Linked DNA regions of Homo sapiens: region 1 is linked to region 2. Evidence: fine-mapped QTL for protein levels in blood plasma. A gene starts in region 2. The other region holds a variant in brackets. All regions are shown on one strand. Distances are between the middles of the regions.

Evidence for each region. PIP is the posterior inclusion probability: the model's chance that the variant is causal. The UK Biobank Pharma Proteomics Project read protein levels with antibody pairs (Olink). The fine-mapping took linkage between variants from a reference panel, not from the people measured, so its PIPs are less certain.
Region 1: its variant is fine-mapped to the plasma level of the SIGLEC6 protein (UK Biobank, PIP above 0.99).

Annotation. Positions count from the first base shown.
Region 1 is chr19:51,483,176-51,491,517 of GRCh38, forward strand. CEACAM18 (CEA cell adhesion molecule 18) reads left to right here. Exons shown (of 6, transcript NM_001405061.1): 4 at 1-121; 5 at 1,812-1,947; 6 at 7,412-8,126. The coding sequence ends at 7,477. SIGLEC12 (sialic acid binding Ig like lectin 12) reads right to left here. Exons shown (of 8, transcript NM_053003.4): 8 at 8,052-8,342. Among named protein-coding and RNA genes, the nearest start is that of CEACAM18, 8.8 kb to the left of the region's middle. RefSeq lists silencers at 4,144-4,303, 5,547-5,727. The variant C/T (reference allele first, on the strand shown) is at 4,426.
Region 2 is chr19:51,530,691-51,538,992 of GRCh38, forward strand. SIGLEC6 (sialic acid binding Ig like lectin 6) reads right to left here and starts at 980. Exons shown (of 8, transcript NM_001245.7): 1 at 892-980; 2 at 470-829; 3 at 1-269. The coding sequence starts at 958.

The DNA.
Region 1 (8,342 bases), 47 kb before region 2:
ATGCAAAGATGAACCTCTCGAGTCTTGCCTGGGAGCAGATGGGCCGTTACCGATGCACTGTGGAGAACCCCGTGACACAGCTGATCATGTACATGGACGTCAGGATCCAGGCCCCCCATGAGTGCAGCAGCTCCCCTCCAGGCTCATGCTTTGCACATCTCCCTGCCTCCATGCCCTGCTAGGCAGTGCCCACCCTCAGGAGTGCCACCTCCACTGTGCCATGACATGCTCTCAACCTCTGGGTGAAATCTCCCAGTTCTCTGAGGTCTGGGTCCAAAGCTGCCTCCTCTGTGAATCCTCTGGAGTCCTCAGATCAGAGTCAGGGTGACTCCCAGGGGGATAAGAGTAGCAGACATTGGCTGAGCACTTACTATGTGCCCGCCTTTGTTCTAACCTGTGTGACTCTCACCATTTCTCTGGAGTAAGTGAATGCGATTGGCATCACCTCCATTTGACAGGTGAGAAACTGAGCCCCATGGAGTTTGAGTGCTTATTCAAGGCTCTATTGCTTTGTAACCCATGGAAGAGGTGGCATTCAAGCCCAGGCAGGCATAGCCTACACCCTCAACTGCTCCCTTCAGCTGCTTCAAGATGAGGAATTAGAAAGACGCAGGGACGGGATGGGTGGACGGGGAGTAGAGATTTGGCATGGCCATGGCGTCAGAAACTTGGCTTGGGAGTGAATTTGTAAATGGGGAAAGCATCTTCTTAGCAACCATGCGTCCAATCTTCTGCATCAAGGAGAGAGACTGATGTGCTCAGGGAGACTGCAGAGGAGTGCAGCAGGTAAATGCAGGGGCTCTACAGCCCAAGGTTCTTGGTCCAAATCCCCATTCTGCTGCTGCCTATCTCCATGAACCTGGGACAAGCAGCTCCATCGTTCCGAGACTCAGTTTCCTCAACTGTAATGAAAGGATAAGAATCCCTGCAGGGAAAGGGTGCTGTGAGAATAAAATGAAACTGTGCAAGAAAGTACAGAAGACATTACAGGATGTGGTCTCCAGACTTTACTTCAGCCACACTACCTCCTAAGCACCTACTATGCACCAGACACGATGTGTGCATGCAGCCCTCCAAGTCATCGATTCACATTTTTCTCTTCCCCTGGACTACAAGATTCAGGAGGGCAGAAGCTGGGGAAGCTTTTTTTTTTTTTTTAACAGAGTCTCGCTCTGTTGCCCAGGCTGGATGCAGTGGTGCAATCTCTGCTCACTGCAACCTGCACCTCCCGGACTCAAGTGATTCTCCTGCCTCAGCCTCTTGAGTAGCTGGGATTACAGGCACACGCCACTGTGCCCAGCTAATTTTTGTATTTTTACAAAATAGAGTAGAGATGGGGTTTCACCATGTTGCCCAGGCTGGTCTTGAACTCTTGACCTCAGGTGATCCACCTTGGGCGAGCTTTCTGTTTTCCATTTGTCCTCAGTGCTTGGCACAGTGTGTAGCACATAGTTGGTGCTCAGTGAACATTTATGCAATGAGTTAATGACCCTGTGTCACACACCCCCCTTCCAGTCACTGTCTCTCCCCTTATGAGGGTTTATTCTTCTCTATTCACTTATGGTTGCTTGCAGTGTGAGACATCTCTTTGCTTAATTGTCCACTGTCCACTTCCCAGCTAGAATGTCAGGCCCATGGGTACAGGGAGTTTGTTTTGTTGGCTGCTGAATCCCTCGTACCTGGAACAGTGCTTTGCTGATAATAGATGTTGACAAATCTTTGAAGAATGGATATGTGGGTGGGTGAAGAGATGAGTGAATGCATGAATGGGTCAATCGTGGTCCTGACCCCCAGGTGTCCTCTTCCTTCAGGGATCTTACCTGTTGTCCACAGAGATTTCTCCATCTCAGGATCCATGGTGATGTTCCTCATCATGCTGACAGTGCTGGGTGGCGTTTACATCTGTGGAGTCCTGATCCATGCTCTGATCAACCACTACTCAATCAGGTGCCCTCATTGCTCTGGGACAAGGGTGGGATGTTGGCTGGGGGCTGGGACTCAGGAGCCAGCCCTCCCTCCAGAGGGGAAGCAGAGCCAGAAGGGGAGGGATAAGCCAGGAACTAGGTTGTCAGGGATCATCTGGGGCAGACAGATCAGCCCCCAGGACCTGAAGCTGATGGGAGCAAGAGAGGGTTTAGAGTCGGCCATGGTTCTAAATAGCTGTGGGGTTTCTTCTAGCAACTTCCCTTCTCTTTGTGTTTATAAGGGATATTAAGGTTTACCTAGAGGGACAGGTAAAAAAATGAGAGGTCTGCATGTCAATTCCTGGTACATAGTCATCCTTTGCTACCAAGTGAAGTTGGGGAAACAGGTATCAGCGGTGAACTATGCAGGGAGAAGAGATTGGGCAGTGGGATGGTTAAGGTCTGGGTTCAAACCCCAGCTCTGCTACCTGTAGGCTAGGTTACCTTGGGTAGGTCACTTCTCCTCATAGCTCATCCTCAGCCCAGCTGAAGAATGAACGGAGCAACAACTGCCTGAAGGGTGATGTGGGGATTAGAGACACGTCTTGGAGGAAAAGGGGACTTGCAGCATTCTCAGCATAGAGTAGACCAGAGTTTCTCAACCTCAGCACTATCAGCATTGGGACCATAATTCTCTGATGGGGAAGAGGAGGTAGTAAGGCTGTCCTGTGCATTGTGGGACATTTAGCCGCATAACTGGCCTTTTTCCATTAGATGCTAGTGGTAACAACCACCACCACCCCAGTTCAGAAAACCAAAAATGTCTCTAGACACTATGAAGATCACATGGGAGGCAACTTTGCCCTGGTTGAGAGTCAGTGGAGTAGATGTTAGAAAGTGCAGTGATGCTTGGGAGGATGATGACGTTAATGATGGAGATAATGGTACCAATGGTGATGGTGGTGATTATAGTGGGAATGGCAATGATGATGTAGATTAATAGTGGAAATGGCATTATTGTGATGGTGATGATGGTGATGATAGTAATAGTGGTGGTGGTGATAGTGGTGATGATGATGATGACAAAGATGATGGTAGTGTTGCTAGTGATGGTGACATTGGTAGTGATGATGACAATGGTGATGATGATGGCCATAATGGTGACAATAGTATTATGGTGATGATGTTGGTGATGGTGGTGCTAATGATGACGGTAGCAAATGCAGTGCTGATGGTGATGATTATGATGAAGCACAATGCCTATATTTTTCTGTGAGCTCTGGGGTGACAGGCAGGCCTCTGAGCCTTAAAAACAATCCTAGACCAAGGGTGCAGCTGGGTCAGCAGGTTGCATCATTGTGCCCGGAGGAAGCTGTTTCTTAGGGGATTTTCCAAGGTCAGGGACCGCATCTCCTTCCTACTAAGACTGTAGTAGGAGCAGCCGATGGAACTACTTGAGCCCCCTGGTCTAGGAAGGAGAGCCCTCATCTCTAGGGGCCAGTCTCCTTCACCTGAGATCAACATGCCTAGTGACAGCTCAGTCCTCAAGGACTCTCACATATGCCTAGGTGTCCTGCAGAACAAAACTTTTGTTTATTGAGCTAATTTTCTTTTTTCTTTTTCTTTCTTTCTTTCTTTTCTTTCTTTTTTTTTTTTTATATGGAGTCTCTCTCTGTTGCCCAGGCTGGAGTGCAGTGGCGCGATCTCAGCTCACTGCAAGCTCCGCCTCCCAGGTTCATGCCATTCTCCTGCCTCAGCCTCCCAAGTAGCCAGGACTACAGGCGCCCGCCACCACACCTGGCTAATTTTTTTGTTTTTTTTTTTAGTAGAGACGGGGTTTCACCGTGTTAGCCAGGATGGTCTTGATCTCCTGACCTCGTGATCCGCCCGCCTCAGCATCCCAAAGTGCTGGGGTTACAGGCATAAGCCACCGCGCCTGGCCTTATTGAGCTAATTTTCATCTAAAATTTTAAACTAAATGAAAATGTAATTGAAATATAAACTGTGAGATCAAAATTATATTGAAAGTTCATCTAATTGAAAGATTAAACATTAAGTAAGATTTAGTACCTGTTTCATTTAATATTAAATTGAATTTAAACTGTGAAGAAATGGCCAGGCATGGTAGCTCATGCCTGTAATCCCAACATTTTGGGAGGCTGAGGCAAGCAGATTACTTGAGCCCAGGAGTTCAAGACCAGCCTGGGCAACGTGGTGAAACCTCATCTCTACAAAAAATACAAAAGTTAGCCTGGAGTGGTGGAGTGCTTCTGGAGTTCCAGCTACTCAGGAGGCTGAGGTGGGAGGATCTCTTGAGCCCGAGAGGCAGAGGCTCAGTGAGCCGAGATCGTGCCACTGCACTCCAGCCTGGGCAACAGACACCCTGTATAAAAAATAAATAAATAGGCCAGGCACAGTGGCTGAAGCCTGTAATCCCAGCATGTTGGAAGGCCAAGGCGGGCGGATCATCAGGTCGGGAGTTCGAGACCAGCCTGGCCAACATAGTGAAATCCCGTCTCTA[C/T]TAAAAATACAAAAAATTAGCCAAGTGTGATGGCAGTCACCTGTAATCCCAGTTACTTGGGAGGCTGAGGCAGGAGAATCACTTGAACCTGGGAGATTCAAGTGCAGTTCAAGTGCAGGTTGCAGTGAGTCGAGATCACACCATGGCACTCCAGCCTGGGCGACAGTGCGAGACTCCATCTCAAAAATAAATAAGTAAATAATCTGTGAAGAAAAGGCCTGTAACATGAATTAACCAATATGGTAGCCACTAGTCATACGTGACTAAGTTTAAAATGAATTAAAATTAAATAAGTAAAAAATCCAGCTCCTCAGTCACACCAGCTCATGGCTATGAGATTGGACGGTGCCAATATAGACCATTTCGTCATTGCCAAAAGTTCTACCGGACAGCACTGCTGTAAACCAATTATGTAGAATGTTCTTAAAGAGTAAAAACAAAACCAAACAAAACCAGAAAAAGTAGAAAGAGACAACCACTAGTCCCTCCTCTGTCCCTCACCCCAACCCCAGGAACTATGCTGCATGGGAAGAGAAGAGAGCTCGAGGTGGAAACAGAATTCTCATATTCAGGGAAGAGCAGAGAAAAGGGGATTGCAAAAGCAGATGGAGAGAGTGGCCATGACATAGTGGGGAGGGGCTCAGGTCAAGGGCAGAAACAGAATGATATGATGGTATTAATAACAATCTCTGAGATTTTATGATGTGCTTACTGTGTACCAACCCTTGTTCCAAGGTATTTACTAGTAAGAGCTTACTTTATCCCCATAGGAGATATCCCTGTGAGGTTGGGACCAGTATTAGTTCCATTTTACACATAGCAAGTAAAGCACAGACAGGCTGACTCCCTGCTATCTCACTGTATGGTCAATGTTGTAGGCTCCTTTGCTAAGGGACCATGTAATAATCATAAATAGGTTCAATATCTAAATACAAGACCTCGCCTGGGAGGTCAGCGAGGTCTTGGAAATGCAGGGTTGTTGGCTAGTCTTCAAGAGAGGTCTCAAGACAAAAGGTCTCAGAGAATTCAGCTGAGAAGGGGTGGGCCCCTGCCTTAGGGTGGGCTCCTCCCTGGGGGCAGGCCCCTCCTGGACCTGGAACCACATTCTTCACAAGGGCTGCAGAAGGTGCCAGAGTTTGGAGTGGGGCAGGGAACTCATGTGGACAGGGCTCCAGAATCCCTCCTCATTCCCCTAAGAGCAGGGCCATTTCTGTTTTACGGAATGGATTCCATCCAGGGGTGCATTTTTGCTTTTGTGGGCCCTCCTCTAGAAAAATATTAAAAATTATATTTTACGACTATCTTGATATAAACATGTATAAAATATAGGGTGGGTTGTATTCAGTTTTTTTCCTTCTGATTTTAGAAGAAATTGAAACATTTTTGTGATCCCTAAAAGTATAATGGGCCTTAGTGCTTCTGTCCATAATGATCCTGCTTCCACTCGAATTTCTTCAGACGAAAAGTTTCCAGGGGTTTCTATCCTTGTGTTCAAAGTCATTGATGGAGACTGAATGAGGGACAAATGAATGAGTCACTGAGGTTGACTTAATGTCAACCTCATCATCCAAAGTGAAATTTTGGATGATTAGGTTGACATTAAGTCAACCTCAGTGACTCATTCATTTGTCTCTCATTCAGTTTCTCGGTCCCCCCACATTTCACCAAGCTCCTGGCTTTATTCTTGGGCCTCTGATGAACAAAAGATGAACAAACTGCTTTCCCTGCCCCCAGTAATATCACAGCTACCACGATCCAGCCCCCTCTTTCAGCTCCCCTTCTCCCTCCCCAAAAGATCACCCTGGAGTTACTCATATTTTAATCATGATTGGATCTGGATACCACCCAAAAGGCACAGGAGTGGCATTTCCTAGAATAAATGGTGGGGCAAGAGGGAGCTGAGGAGACACACAGCATACGTGTATGCGTTTTCACTATGTTATCTAAAGATTTTAGAAGATACATCTTCAATTATCTTAATATTTAGATATTGAGCCTATTTATGATTATTATATGGTCCCTTCACCAAGGAGCCTACAATGTCGACCATACAGTGAGATAGCAGGCAATCGGCCTGACTGTGCTTTACTTGCCATGTGTAAAATGGAACTAACACTGGTCCAAACCTCACAGGGATATCTCCTATGGGGATAAAGTAAGCTCTTAGTAGTAATTACCTTGGAAGAAGGGTTGGTACACAGTAAGCACTTCATAAAATCTCAGATATTATTATTAATGCCATCATATTATTCAATGTGCAATTCTAAACTGATTGTGATAAACTCAAGAAAGTTCAAGGGTATTTCAAAGAGTGTATCTGAATCACCTCATCTTCCACCACCTGGAAGAACCCCCCTGGCCTGGCAGAACCACCTCCACGCCACTGTCCCATTCCTTTCAAAGGCGCCATGTTCTCTATGGTCTGGGGCCTCCCCTCCGATATGAGAGCAGGGATCTGGAATCAGAGAAGCCAGTTTGGGAATATTGGCCTCTGTTATGTTCTGGCTGTGTGACCTGGGGCAAGTAACATCACCTCTCTGGACCCTCATTTCTTCATCTGCAAATGGGTTAAAGTATCTGTCTTGCTTGGCTGTTGGGAGGGTTAAAGATAACCCTGTCATAAGTTATAGTGCCTGGCATATAATTGGTATGAAGTAAATTACTGTTATTACCTCCATCATTGTTGTGATCCCTCATAATTAGGCCAACAGTGCCCACTCCTTCCTCAGCTTCACCCGGCCTCTTTCTCCCCACACAGTGGCATCTTCCTCCAGTGCCCTCGGAAATCTTTAAAAGTATGGAGATGTTGAGGACTCTCGGTGCAGAGGTGCAGCCCTCAGACCATCTCCTCCATTGGGTCCCATGTGAGGAAGACTTAGGCTTGGACTTGGTGGGAAGTCGGGCCCCTTCACCTCTCTCTATCCAGGACTCTCCCATGTTTCTTAGGGACCTGAGATGTGGCTTCTTCCCTGATTTCTCCCCATAGGACAAATCGGGCTCCATGAGTGTCCACCCCAGACCTGAGGACAAGACCAGAAGGGCAAGCAGGTGAGGAGAGGGTGATGGAGAAGGGCTGGGGGTCCCCATAGGGCCAGCGAGGCTGAAAAGGGTCCAGGGTCTCTTTGGAGGGTACTGGCAAGAGAGGGACCCAGCCCAGTCACACGGAAGCCTGGAGATGGAGGCTCCAGTAGGAGGTCTGCAGACCCCACCCGGGACCTGAAGATGATGTCGTGGGTAGCGTGGCCATTGGGCGCTTCATCTGCCAATCAGAGCTGGTCAATGGGTTGCAGGTCGGGGCGGGCCATGCGCAAAGCTGGGCTCTAATTCCAAGCGCCTCCTCCCTCAGCTCCGGCGCTTCCAGCTTCTCAGATTTCTTCACCCATGGAATCAACAGCGATGCTGTAAACTTATGGCCAAGGGGTGCCAATCAGTGGTTGTTCCACTCAGTGCCGAATGAGAGAAGAGACCTTAGAATCAGGCAGGGATTAAATTTCAGTCCTGCCCTGAGTACCGGAGCGACCTGAACGCAGCCCCAGTGAGGCTCCCTCACCTGGATGCACCGTGGAACCATCGTCAGCATGATTAGCACATCCGTCAGCTCAAATATTTAATTTTTTTTTTTTTTTGGTGACAACATTTAAACTCCTCTCTTTTAGCCATTTTGAAATATTCAATACATTATTCTGTTATTTGGAACAACACGGATGAACCTAGAGAACATTATGTTGAGTGAAATAAGCCAGGTACAGAGAGACAAACACTCTACGATCTCACTATATTTGGAACCTAAAATAGTCGACCTCAGAGAAGTAGAGAAGAGAATGGTGGGTACCAGAGGCCGGGGGCGGGGAGTGTGGACCGATTGGATGGAGAAAGGGAGAGTTTGGTCATCAGGCACGCATTTTCAGTTTGACAAG
Region 2 (8,302 bases):
GAGCTGGATGGTTCTCTCCATGGTCACACCGGCTCCAGGGAACGTCACCTGACAGGTGAGGTTGGTGCTGTGGTCCTGGGGCCGTGGGGTGATTGTGAGCACCGAGGACTGGGTGGTCCTGGGGCCCAGGGAGGTGGGGGCAGCTGACATCCAGGAGAAGATGGGGGGCGTCCCCTGCTCACAGACCCAGGGCACAGAGCAGGTCAGATTGCTGGGATGGCCAGACTCCAGGGTCCCTGGGATGGAGATGTTGGGCCTGTGGGTCAGGGCTGGTGAGGAGATGGGGACGCAGGATCAGGATGGAGGTCTGAGGTTTCACCCAGGGGGAAGCCCAGTCTCTGGTCCAGCTCCTTCTCTGAGCCCAACATGCTTAATTGTACCCGCCTCCCAAGACGGGGCTCCCGTCCCAGCCCTGCCCTACGGCCCCCATGACCTTCCCCTGTGGCTAGTCCTGGAGCTGGTTCCTTACCCATCACACGCACAGAGAGCTTGGAAGATGTATAACCGTATTTCATCCATTTGGACTTCAACCGAAAGAAGTATGCAGCATTGTCCCTCCTCCGGGCATCTCTGATGCTCAGGGAGCAGTTCTTCCTTCTGGGATCCCAGAGGAGGTGGAATCGGCCCCGGGTCTCCTCCTGCACTTCTTCGTCTGGGTCGTTTGTGGCCACTGGAACATCAGCCCCTTCCAGGAACCAGTAGCCATAACCATAGTACGAGGCTGGAAGGGTAGTGGGCAATCTGCAGGGTACGAGGACGCACAGACCCTCCTGCACCGTCAGTGACTCTGGCCCCTCCAGCTGGAATCTCCGCTCCTGAGCCAGGGCCCCTATGGAGACATGAGGGTCAGCTCGGCCCAGCCCCACGGCACCTCTCCCCTGGCCCACTCACCTGCCCACAGCAGGGGCAGCAGCAGCGGTAGCATCTCTGAGGCGGAGGCTTCCTGGGCTCCCTGCATGAGCAGAGAAGGGGAAGGGAGTGGAGGGGAAGGACTGCGGGGAGGAACGGGTGGCTGGGGAGGAGCGCGTGATCTCGGCTGTTCACAGAAGAGGAACTGCGAAGCCACAAGCCCTCGGAGCTCCACTCCCTCTGCACAGAGCAGACGGAAACTTTGAGACCCAGAGACCTGCCCAAAGAAGAGCAGAGGAGAAGAGACTGTGTCCCGCCTCCCACCTCGGGGCTTCCTGTGAGCAACAGAGCCCGGACCAGGGCCTCCCGGGGCATCTGAGGAATGCGAAACCTGTGTCCAAGGCCCTGCCCACCTGAGGTGCTTTTCTGTGCACCACTGTTTACACCTGGGAGCTGGTCACTCCTGGCCCCAGAGAGTCACAGCCTCATCCCACGCCATGAGAAAGTCAGTCCTGCAGGATATAGGATTCTGTAGGGTCTGTGGGAGTGTCTGGGACAGTGAAAGGAAGAAGGGTCCCAGGTGCAGTGTGGGTGATAGCCACTCATTCATTCACTCATTCATTCATTCATTCATTCATTCACCAAAGACATAGTGAGCATCTGTATGTAGGTCGGGCTGGAGAAGAGATGCCAGGGACCTGGTCCCTACCCTTGAGATGATCCCCATCCATAGCTTCCCATCCTCAGCACACACCCTCACTATCTAGCTTTAGAGCTGTGGACACTGGTGAGTTTGCCAAGTGACACAGTAGAATGCCAGATATTTTTTAAAACATGAGTATGGAGGTTTTTCCTTGACAGCTAGTACGCTGATTTACAAAATTTCAATGACATCTCCAAAATAAGAACCATGCAACATCTTCATGTAAATCAAAAAGGACACATATTTTATGAACTGCAGTGCAGAAGAAACTTCTTTTGAATTAATGTTGCCACTCAGTGCAGTGTGGACTGGAGAGATTTTTTTTTAGGTCCTCATCATAGAGATTAGCAATTTCTTTCCTGTGAAAAATCTGCTTCTCACAGTTAAATGTGGCACAAAAGACATATTTCTGGACAACGTGAGCAGAATATCCTGACAAAATTAAAATTTTTAGGTCTAGCTCACATGGTTTTCTATTTTCCTCTGTGCAGTATGCATCTGGCAAATCTCTAATACCTATGAGGTATTAGAATTTGCCACCATATATTTGTAAATTTTTTTATTTCTACAAACTTAAGGAGTAGATGTAAAATTTTTTTGCATGTATATAATGCGTAATGATTATGTCAGGATATTTAGAGTGTCCGTCACGTGAGTGCAATACATTCTTGTTAACTAAAATCACACTATTCTGCTCTCTAACGCTGAATTTATTCCTTTTAACTGTATGTTTGTAGCACTTCACTCACTTCTCTTCATCTTCTGTCCTCCCCCATCTGACCCTTTCCAGTCTCTGTTGTCTATCTTTCTACTGTCCACCTCCATGTGATAATATTTTTTTAGCTCCCACATGTAAGTGAGAACATGCAACATTTGTCTTTTTGTGTCTGACTTATTTCAATTTAGATAATGAATTCTAGTCCCATCCATGTTGCTGCAAATGACACGATTTCATTCTTTTTTATGGCCAAATAGCATGTATACTATATTTTCTTTATCCATTCATCTGTTAATTGACACTTAGGTTGGTTCCATATCTCTGATATTGTGAATAGTGCAGCAAAAATCATGTGAATGCAGGTATCTCTTTGATGTATTTCTTTCTTTCCCTTCGGGTAGATACCCAGTAGTGGGATTGCTTGAGTGATCGAATAGTAATTCTATTTTTAGTTCCTGAGAAATGTCCATAGTGTTTTCAAAAGTGGCTGTACTAGTTTAAATTCCCACCAACAGTACAGAAGAGTTATCTTTCTCCTCATCCTTGCCAAAATCTGTTATTTTTTGTTTTTTTAGTAATAGTCATTCTGACTGGGTAAGACGGTATCTCATTTTGGTTTAGATGTGCACTTCTCTGATGATTAGTGACGCTGACCATTTTGTCGTATTGGCTGTTCTTATGTATTCTTTGAGAACTGTCTATTCCTGTCCTTTGCCCACTTTTTACTTGGATTATTTGCTTTTTCCTGTTGAGTTGTTTGAGTTCCTTGTATAGTCTGGATATTAGTCTCCTGTCAGAAGAATAGTTTGCGAATATTTTCTCCAATTCAACAGGTTGTTTCTTCACTCTAATTATTTCTTTTCCTGGCAGAAGCTTTTTGTTTATTAAGTCCCATTTGTTTATTTTTGTTTTTGTTGCCTGTGCTTTTCAGAACTTAGTCATAATTTCTGACTCTTCTGACCAATGTTCAAAAGAGTTTTCCCTAGGTTTTCTTGTAGCTGTTTTTTTTTTTTATAGTTTTGGGTCTTACATTTAAGTGTATGATTCATTTTGAGTTTTTTTTTAATATGGTGAGAGAGAAGAATCCAGTTTCATTCTTTTGTGTGTGGGTATACAATTTTCCCAGCACCATTTATTGAAGAAGGTGTCCTTTCCTCAATATAAGTTCTTGTCAGTTTTGTTGACAATCAATTGGCTGTATACATGTGGCCTTATTTCTGGGTTATATTCCATTGGTCTATGTATCTATTTCTATACCAATATCATGCTGTTTTGGTTATTATAGCCTTGTAATATACTTTGAAGTCAGGTAAAGTGATACCACCAGCTTTGTTCTTTTTTCTCCGGATAGCTTTGGCTATTCAGGTTCTTTTTGGATCCATATGAATTTTATAATTGTTTTTTACAATTCTGTGAAGACTGACATTGGTATTTTCATATGGATTACATTAAATCTTTAGATTGCTATAGACCAGTGTGGGCTTCTTAACTATCTTAATTCTTCCAGTCATGAGTATGGGATGTTTTTCCATTTGTTTGTGTCATCTTCAATTTCTTTCATCAGTGTTTTTTAGTTTTTCCTGTATAGATTTTCACCTGGTAGGTCATTAAGAGCATATTGTTTAATTTCCATACATTTGTCTTGTTTCCAGAGTTCCTCTTGGTGCTGACTTGTTGTTTTGTTCCATTGTGGTCTGAGTATACATTGAGTAAATATTGATTTTTTTTTTAATTTATAGAGACTTATTTCGTAGCCGAATATATGGTGTATCCTGGAGAATGTTTCATGTACTGATGAAAAGAATATGTATTCTGCAGTTGTTGGGTAGAAGTTCTGTAAAAGTCTGTTAGTTCCATTTGGTCTATAGTGTAGTTTAAATGTGATGTTTGTTTGTTGATTTTCTGTCTAAGTGATCTGTCTTACTGAGAATAGGGTGGTGAAGCTTCCCACCATTATTGTATTGCATTCTATCTCTCTCTTTAGATCTAGTAATATTTGCTTTATAGATATGGCTGCTCCATTGCTGGGTGCATATATATTTAGAATTGTTATATCCTCTTGCTGGGTTGATCCCTTCATCATTATATAATGACCTTCTTTGTCTTTTTCTACTGCTCTTGACCTAAGGTCTGTTTTATCTAAGTATAGTTACTGCTGCTTACTATTGGTTTCCATTTGTGTGGAATATCTTTCTCCATCCTTTTACTTTTGGTCTATATGTGTCTTTTCTTAAGGTGTGTTTCTTTAAGCTGCACACTGTTGAGTCATTTTTAAAATCCATTCAGCCATTCTATATCTTTTAAGAGGATACTTTAATCCATTTACATACATGGTTATTATTGATTTGTGAGGCTTTCTTTCTGTCAGGTTATTAAACATTTTCTTGTTTTAAACATTCGTTGTTTCTTTCCTTTTATCTTATTGTTTGTCCTTGTGATTTGGTGGATTTCTGTAGTGGTACCATTTGAGTCCTTTCTAGTTCTCATTTGCATGATTGCTTTACCAGTGAATTTTTTACTTTCATATGTTTTCGTGATGATAAAATCATCCTTTTGCTTCCAGGTTTAGGACTCCTTTGAGTATTTTTTCCAAGGCTGGTCTAGTGGTAATAAATTTCATCAGCATTTGTTTGTCTTGGGATGAATCTATTTCTCTTTTATTTATGAAGAATAGTTTCTTTGCATGTTCTGTGGTGGCAGTTATTTTTTCTTTTAGCACTTAGAATATATCAGTTCCTTCTTTTCTGGTGTGTAAGGTTTCTACTGAGAAATCTGCTCTTAGTCAAATGGAATTTCCTTTAGAGGTAGCTAGATGCTTTTCTCTTGCTATTTGTAGAATTTGCTCTTTAACTTTGACTTCACACAGTCTGACTATAATGTGCCAAGGAGAAGACCTTTTGCATTGGGGATCTGCCCGGGGATCATTGGGCCTTCTGTATCTCTATACCTAAATCTTTTGTTAGACTTGGGATGTTTTCATGTATTATTTTGCTGAGTAGGTTTTCCAATATTTCTTTGTTTTTTCACCCTTAGAGATACCAGTAATTTATAAATTCCATTGCTTTTTGTTGTCCTAAATGTTATTAAGGCTATGCTCATTATTTTTTGTACTTTTCCCTTTATTTTTGTCTGACTAGATTATTTCAAAAAACCTGTCTTCAAGTTCCAAGATTCTTCTGCCAGATTTAGTCTATTATTGAACTTTTCAAATGTGTTTTGCATTTCCTTCAATTAACTATTCAGTTCCAGAATTTATATTTGGTTATTTTAAAAAATATATATCTCTTTGATCATTTTCTCATTTATACCCTGAATTGTTTTTCTGGTTTCCATAGTATTGATTTTCAGAATTCTGTTGTATCTCACTGAGCTTCTTTAACATCAATATTTTGAATTCTTTGTCTGGAATTTCAAAAATTTCTTTGTGATTAAGATCTATTTCTGCAGAATTCTTGTGTTCCTTTCCTTGCTGTTTCATGTTTCCTGTGTCCTTATGTTAAAATCTGTGCATCTAGTATAACAGTAGCTTCTTCCTATTTTTTAATTTACTTTCATAGAGGACATTTCTTTTTTTTTTCATGGTCCAAGCATGTGGTGATTTTTATTAAGAATAACTTTGGTTCTAAGAATTCCACTCTCAATTCTTTAATGCTTTCTGTTAAAAACAATTATACAACGGCAAATACAAAAAATATTAAATTATGAAAACCAATCCATTAAGGCTCCCTTTATATATAATATACACTCAAACAAGTCAAGATTTTTCAGAGTAGAAGAATAAAATCAACTGTTATAGCTTAGAAAGCAACACTACTACTATGAGACTATAAAACATTGAACTACTTTAAGAAAATCACAATGTGGAAAAATGGAGCCTTTTTTTTTATCAAAAAGTGGCTCAAAGCACAAAACTGCTCAGATGTTCAAGGGTCCCAGGGGTTTGGGCTGCACAGTGTTAAGGGGAGAGAGGAGACTGACAGCCTGTTTGAATCAGGCTTGTGAGCCCAGCCCATCTGACAATTTCAAAGAGCTTCTCTGCCTAAACATTCCACCGTTTAGTATAAGACACCACTTTACGCTATTTACAAGTCTCCTTTTGGCCAGCCTTTGTATTATTAATTACAAATAATTCTGCAGATTTGAGTGAGATTAGGAAAGAAATGCTTTCTTAATTAACTTTTTTTTTCAGTGAACAATTAATTCTAGTTAAGCTCTAGGAACAGAATTGGTCCTTATAAAGGAGCCTATCAGGGCCCTTGAGAATACGATCAAGTGGCAGAATTGCTTTGAGAATACGGATTTCAAGATCTGACATCTAGTTAGATAAAAAGATATGAGCCAGTCCCGAATAGAAGACATTTCTTGAAAATGTATCTACGTTGCTTGTTTGGTGGGGTGCTTTGGCTTTGATTCTGTGTATGTGCAGTAGTGTACTTTCTGTATATTTCTTTGACTGTAAACAGCATTAGTGATATGTGTGATTTCTTTGGCTAGTTGGAGCATGGTTATTAGTGGAGAATATGGTAAAGTTGTGCTAGGGACAGGGATGCTGAGCGGGAGAGTCTTCAGGTCCCCAGCTTTGGCATCAGTGGGCTGAGCATCTATCTTTTTGCCCCAGGGTGGTATATGCTGGCTTCTCTGTTGGCAGTTACCAGTGGGTTGATTCTTGGGCTTTCAGGTTGCTCATTTGGATGCTCATAGTAGCACCAATGGATCAAGCAATTGTGTGGGTTTTCAGGCCCCTGGGCAGCCAGCATGGCATTGACAATAGCAATAGCATGGGCAAGATGATTCTATGAGTCCCAAGTGATGTGCATTAATGTTGGTGCTGGCTGCAATGGGCTGGACAAGACAGCCTTTGGACCCACAGTTGGCACTTGCAGGTAGGCGCCAGGCAAGGTAGTAGCAGCCAGAAGTTTAGATCCAACCTCAAGCCCCCAGAAGAAGTGCTCAGGTGCCCAAGGTAGTGAATTGGGTCGAGCAATCCGCAGGACCCTGGGCTATGTGCTCTGTCTCAGAGCGGGAGAGGTGAGGTGAAGCTGAGCTAGATGGGTTTGTGCTCAGGTCCTCAATGTTGACAGCAGGCACTCGTCATTGTGGGCAGGGTCAGAGCAATCGTCGGGTCCCAGGCAGAGGATTACTGAAGAGGGTAGGGCCATCTTGAGTGGTCATAGCCTGGGTCAGTTGAAGGTGGCGGAAGAACATATGTCCCTTTCACACTCCAGTCCTGGAGGGGCTCGACACCCCCCCTCACCCTGGTTGCTGGAGCTCCCATCTGGCTTGCAAACAAGTTCCAATGGCAATTTGTGCCCCTCTTGCATCCTTGTCTCAGATCCTGGCAGTGCTTGCTTCACAGCCACAGCTGACCAAACCTTGCTCACTTTCTAGCCCCACCTGCAGGAGCACTCCTGGTTCGATCTCCTGTCCCAGCAGCAATAGCTTGAGTTTCTGTAATGCCCCAGTTTCAGTGTCTCTGGGTCCTTGAACAGCATACAATTTCCAGAGGACAAGCTTGAAAATGCTTAAGTGTCAGAAAGGTGTGGAACCCAGCAGGAGTTCCCTTCCCGGAGTAGTTCTGTCCAATGGTGTCCTGACTCTCTATGTTAGTTTCATAGGGTTGAGTGCTTCTCCCTTGGCCAGGATTGCTGAATTCCGCCATGGAGATGTGGATGACTGGAAATCCCTAACTCAGTCCTTTGTGCATGGGAAGTCACTCCCAGCTCCCAGCCAATCCCAGCCAGGGAGGCTGCCTCTTTTCCTTCTCCTTCCCTGTTTTTGATGTCCTCTGCCACTTCTCTGGTGGATTCCAGGATTTTCCCTTGGATAATGTAATTCGACTGTGACTGTCTATACATTACTCTGGTTCTTCTAAGTGGAGGAGGCAGGCATGAAATGCTTCTAGTTAGTCGTCTTGAACTACACTACCCTTATTTGAACAATTTTTAAACACAGTAGTATCTAGATAAATATTCATTCATCCTTACTAAAATAAGAGAGCTAGTTTTACCTTTATTTGATATATAAGTAATTGA